2 separate regions of the Homo sapiens genome follow, and region 2 is linked to region 1. A link means that fine-mapping ties the variant in region 1 to the expression of a gene that starts in the linked region. Tissue or cell type: transverse colon. Region 1 holds a variant in brackets; the other region holds the start of a gene. All regions are shown on one strand. Distances are from middle to middle.

Region 1 (2,913 bases):
CGAGGAAACGCTTGGCTGCTCCTGTGGTGTTTCTTACCTTGGTCTGTGCACAGAGTTACCTGGTCGCTGCGGTGTGTGATGATCCCTTTCCCCAGGTCGCCAGCCAGTTTCTTTCTGCATTGCTGAGAGTCCGGGTTTATTTGTCACACCCGGTGGGTCTTGATTCCTTACCCCTGAGGCCACTGCAACAAGGCAGCGGGGCATGCCTCCTCATGGGAGAGGACCAGACCCTTCACCAAAGGAGAATGGGAATCCCGGGCGGGCCCCCAAATTTGTTAGAAGTAAATTTTCAGTGCCGCAAAAGAAATAGCACTTGAACATAAATTTTTTCAACTAGGCTGTAGCAGGATAAGCTGCAGACAAAACCCCTCAGACACCAAGTTAAAGAAGGAAGGGCTTTATTCGGCTGGGAGCTTCGGCAAGACTCACGTCTCCAGCAGTCGAGCTCCGCGAGTGAGCAATTCCTGTCCCTTTTAAGGGCTTACAACTCTAAGGGGGTCCGTGTGAGAGGGTCGTGATCCACTGAGCAGACATGTGTCCGTTTCACCTAGGTTATCTAATTTGTTGGCATACACTTTTCATAGTATTCCTTTATACTCCTTTTTATTTCTATAAGGTTGGTAATAATGTTCCCTCTTTTATTCCTGATTTTAGTAGTTTGGGTTTTCTTTCTCTTTTTTTTGGTCTGTCTAGCCAAAATGTGTCAGTTTTGTTGACCTCTTCAAAGAACCAACTTTTAGTTTTGTTGATTTTTTCTATTCTGTTTCATTTATTTCCACAATAGTTTTTATTGTTCCTGGATATGAAATTAATATAAAAATCAGCTGTATTTCTGTATGCCAGCTACAGTTAGAAGGTGATTATTTTTGTAAAAAACACCATTTATGATAGCATTAAATAAATCAAGTACCTAAGAGTAAGTAATAGAAAGTGTACAAGATTTCTTTGAAGAAAACTGTAAACCTTTATTGAGGGACCATAAAGAAGACATAAATTGAAGGATCCAGCGTATTCATGGATTAAAATATGAATCCATTTTGTAGTTAATTTTCTTCAAATTTGTTTATAATCTCATGCAATTCCCATCAAAATCACAAACAGGTTTTTTTGTTTGTTTTGTTTCGATGTGCATCTGGACAAGCTGTTTCTAAAATGTATGTGGAAACTCAAAGGGCTGAGAACAGGCAAGATATTCTTGAAAGAGAATAAGGCAGAAAGACACTCTTGGAGATCAAGACCTGTTATTAAGTCAGCATAAACCCTTGACATATGGTAAAGGGGCTTTTCCTATCATTTTTCTTTTC[T/C]TTTTACAAATCCACTTTTACTGGTATTTATTTACTTTTCATTAGTTCAAATCCTTGAGGAGTACAGCATCACAGAGCCGCCGTGACTAGTGGCCTAAGCAGGACGGCTGCTTTGGAATTAGGCACACATTGTGCCACTGTTTCCGTGGGCACACGTTACCTTTCTCCACCTTACTCTGGTTTTGTTTGGTTTGCTGCCAGGAGTCAGTATTATTCTTTGTACACATAAGCGCATTTCCTGCCCAAATCAAATCTCATTTTATGTCAGCCATAAATACCTTCAGTTTTAAGAAGAGCTGTGTCCTCCCTTTGGTTCTGGAGATCCTGCTGACGGCAAAAACGGCCTTGGACCACAGCTTTCCAGGCATACTTGTCATTTAGAATTCCTCCTCCCAGCAGGCCTCCGGGCTTCAAGTTGGCAGGAACAGCAAGGGGGCTTTTCGGTAGATGCTGCTGGGACAATTGAGTATCTACTTGGAGAAAAAATGGAATTGGATTCATACTTTTGCACCCCGTACCAAAATCAAGTTTAGATGGATTGTGGATGCCCTCACGGTTGGGAATGGCTTTTACAAAAAGACAAAGAGGCATTAAATGTAATGAAAAAGTGATACGTTTGTGTACTTTTAAAATTGAGAATGTTTCCCAAAACACACGATTAAGAAAGTCAAAAGGCTAGCTGCAATGTAGGAGTTACTTACAACACGTGGTAAATCCTGACATCACAATTTTGAGCATAAGAAGCCAAACACTCAGTAATAAATCTTGCTTGATTGCATTTCTGTAGAGCTTAGAAACAGGCAAAACTAATTGTACTGTTTAGGGATGAATTCTTAGGTGATTAAACTCTAAAGAAAAGAATTTTTCTTGATTACTGTAAAGGCAGGACGGAAGGAGGGCCTTCTTAGTTGCTGGTTACCTGTAGTTCTTGACCTGGATGTTTACATGTACGTTGGCTTCATAACATACATGAATATACAATTTAATAAAATTGTATTAGGTACGTCTCTATATTTTTCTGTGAAACGCAAATAGTTTTTTAAATTGAATGTAATTTTTTCCTTTTCAATGGCTTAGTTGTATAAGAAAATATGTTTAGATTTTTAAAAAGCTGTTTTCTCCTGGTGTTTGGAATCTTTACATTTGTAGAGATTCACATAGGCCCTTTTGGCTAGGCTCAGATTGAGTAGATAACAAATCAAACCTTTAAGACTTTAGTTCTGTTGTAGTTTTAATAAAACAGAAGAAATAAATCTGTACCAGAATGAAAGTTAGATTTGGTATCTCTGCTTTTCAGTATCATCAAAGCTGAGATAGGAAAACCTGAATCTTTGGATGGTTTTATTGTTTCTCTTATTTTGTTTATTAACAATGAAAGGTACCTTCATATCTGCCTCCCACATATCCCTCTTTGAAAATCTTGTGACAGAATTAGTTTTGAATCTTTCTGAATTACTCTGTTGACCTAAACAATGTAAACAACATAGAAGGAAGGACATAATACAATTATGTACAATCAATATAATAAATGAAGTTTATTCCTGTAATAGAGAATTAAAAGGCCCACCTAGAGGTTGGGAAAGAAAGGTCAGTGCTAGGCCGGGCGCGG
Region 2 (2,913 bases), 31 kb before region 1:
GCTGGGACTAAAAGTGCATGCCACTGTACCTGGCTCTGTAAGATTATTTTTTAGTGACTGTTTACTCCACTAGAATGTAAACTTCTTGAGGGCAGGGGCTTTATTTGTTGCCATATCCCCAGTACTTTATTCCTAGTGCCCAGTATATAGTTAAGTGTTTAATAAATACTTGAATGCTTACTACTTTACACCCACCAGATGGACAAGCATGAAGTCTGAGAATACCAAGTGCTGACAAGCACGTAAAGCAAGAGGATTCTTGTATCCCGCTGAGAGCGAAAATTAGTGCATGTGCTTTAAAGAGCAGTGAGATAACTCAAATATGGATATTCTAGCACCAACCATTTTCATTCCTGACACATATTCAATACACTTTCGCACAGGTGCTTTAGGAGAAAGGTACAAGAATTTTATTGTAGCATTCTTTGTATTATATTGCACAAAAGCACTATACAACATTGTACAAAAGCATTGTAGAATTTGGTGTATTTCTCTCTCTCTCCCTCTCTCCACACACGTATCACAGACATTTTTTTTTATTCTGAATCATTTGGGAATAAGTTCACGACATCATGACCAAATAAGAAAGCTGCAGGATTGACATTTACAAAATATTCAAAATATGCAAAACGGTACTATAATATTTATAAATACATACATATATAACAAGCAGAAAGATAGGAATAGGAATAATAAACACTAAATTCAGGCAAGTGGCCGTCTTGGGGACGCAAAAGGAAATGTGTTCAGGAATGAATACCTGGAAGCCTCGCTATCTGGAATATTTTTCTTAAGCTGTGTTGAGGGTACATATTTGTTATTGGCTGTACCTTTTTTGCAAGACATATATTTCAAAATTTTTAAAAGCATTCATTTATTCCTATTTTAATGAGAGTTTTTAAAAATCAGGAATGGGCTGGGTGCAGTGGCTCATGCGTGTAATCCCGACCCTTTGGGAGGCCGAGGTGGGTGGATCACCTGAGGTCAGGAGTTCGAGACCAGCCTGGCCAACAAGGTGAAAACCCATCTCTACTAAAAACACAAAAATTAGCAGGGCGTGGGGGCGCTCCCCTGTAATCCCAGCTACTCGGGAGGCTGAGGCAGAATCGCTTGAACCCAGGAGGCGAAGGTTGCAGTAAATCGAGATCGCGCCACTGCGCTGCAGCCTGGGCGACAGAGTGAGACTCCATCTCAAAAACAGAAAAGAGAAAAGAAAGGGAAAAAAGGGAAGAAAGAAAGGAAGAAAGCAAGCAAGCTCAAGGGTTCTCGGGGTGGGCCATCCCCGAGGCCATCCGCAGATTTTCTCGCACTCTTTGCTCCACCCCCACGTGCAACAAGGACAACCGGCTGCCGCCTCCAGCTTCCAGCAGGGCTAGAAGATGCGCTGCCCGGGGCGGCCAGAGCCCTGCAGAACAAACCGCCGCACGGAATTAGGGGCCGCCGTCCGCGCCTGCCAGGCTTGGAAGCGGACTCGCCCCCAGGGCCACCGCCCTAGGAAACCTCCCGTCGGAAGCCTCCCAAGCAAGCCGCTCACCCGCGGCTCCCGCGCGAGGCGGCGTGGGCGTGGGCGCGGCCCTGGCGCGGCGGCGCGCGCGGGGTGAAGGGAGCCCGGCGCGCTGGCTGCGGCGACGGCGGCCGTTGCTGCGCCGGGTACTGGGGTCGCTGCCTGAGGCGCAGGCGCCGTGGACTCCACCCGCCCCGGGGCCTGGGCTCGCTGTGGACTCGTCATGGCGACCGAGCAGAGGCCTTTCCACCTGGTGGTGTTCGGCGCGTCTGGCTTCACCGGCCAGTTCGTGACCGAGGAGGTGGCCCGGGAGCAGGTGGACCCGGAGCGGAGCTCCCGCCTGCCCTGGGCCGTGGCGGGCCGCTCCCGGGAGAAGCTGCAGCGGGTGCTGGAGAAGGCGGCCCTGAAGCTGGGTACAGCGGCGGGGCGGGACGGGGCTGCGCGGGCGGCTGGGCCGGGGACCCCGCATCGCCCCAAACGAGCGTTTCTCCCGCAGGGATGCGCCCTACGTGTCCCCGAGCCCTGCGTGAGGACAAGAAGAGGAGAGGGAGAGATGTTTCAAATACTGCCATAGCTTTGTCCCACCTCCTTAACTATATGTGTGTGTGCGCGTGCGTGTATAATATACACACACATTTTTTTTTCTTTCCTTCTCCTCTTTCCCGCTTTTTGCATTTCTGCCTCAGTTTGGGGAGCTCCCCTGGCGAAATGGTCAAGAACTTGAGTTGTCCCTCTCTCTGCTTCATCCTGCCCCGCAGCGGGGGCACCTGTTGAATCTGCGGGTTTCTAGATGTTTGGTCGGAGAGGAGAGGAGGGCTTTGGTCTCTTGGAGATCGGAGTCTCCCTTTGCCTCGTGTTTTGAGGACGGGAGAGCAAGCTTACGAGTTGTACTGACAGTGTCTTTGTGGCTATTCTGTTTTAGTTTCTTGTTTTGTGTGTAAGAATACTCCAGCAGTCTTCCTCTTCAGAGAATAAAAAGTGTGTATTTCTGGTTTAGACGCTTACGTATTCTCTAAGCATTCAGGTAGCATGTATTTATTGATAATCTAAGCATTCAGGTAGCATATATTTATTGATAATCTAAGCATTCAGGTAGCATATATTTATTGATTCTCTAAGCATTGAAGGAGCATATATTTATTGAGTGACGTTGTCCATGCTAAGACCTGTCCCGAGTCTGGGGTGCAGGATGGGACAGAGAGGAGACAGACACACGGATCCTGCTGCCTTCATGGCTGGGGAGACATCTGACTTACGACTCCGTAGCCTTTAAATTTGGCTATTAACTCCCGTAGATTTCCCTTATACAGACACCCATTAGAGTTCTGGAAATACTACATTCTTTCTGTTTAATCTACTTTCATACAATGCCCTGCTCGGAGTGCTTTTGTTCGTGGTTATGTACAGAA

Direction of the effects. Positions count from the first base shown, and alleles are read on the strand shown. Sizes are in standard deviations (SD) of each study's normalised expression.
In carriers of allele C in region 1, the expression in transverse colon of the gene that starts at base 1,714 in region 2 tends to be higher than with T alone (moderate effect, 0.60 SD a copy in GTEx).

Evidence for each region. PIP is the estimated chance that this variant, and not a neighbour inherited with it, causes the effect.
Region 2: it holds the start of SCCPDH, and the variant in region 1 is fine-mapped to the expression of SCCPDH in transverse colon (GTEx, PIP 0.99).

The regions. Positions count from the first base shown.
Region 1 is chr1:246,754,161-246,757,073 of GRCh38, forward strand. The region is part of intron 5 of SCCPDH (saccharopine dehydrogenase (putative)); the gene reads left to right. It also overlaps the pseudogene RPL35AP6. Among named protein-coding and RNA genes, the nearest start is that of SCCPDH, 31 kb to the left of the region's middle. RefSeq lists a silencer at 1-12. The variant T/C (reference allele first, on the strand shown) is at 1,305.
Region 2 is chr1:246,722,696-246,725,608 of GRCh38, forward strand. SCCPDH (saccharopine dehydrogenase (putative)) reads left to right here and starts at 1,714. Exons shown (of 12, transcript NM_016002.3): 1 at 1,714-1,917. The coding sequence starts at 1,728. RefSeq lists an enhancer at 1,148-1,307 and silencers at 1,518-1,647, 1,688-1,757, 1,858-2,067.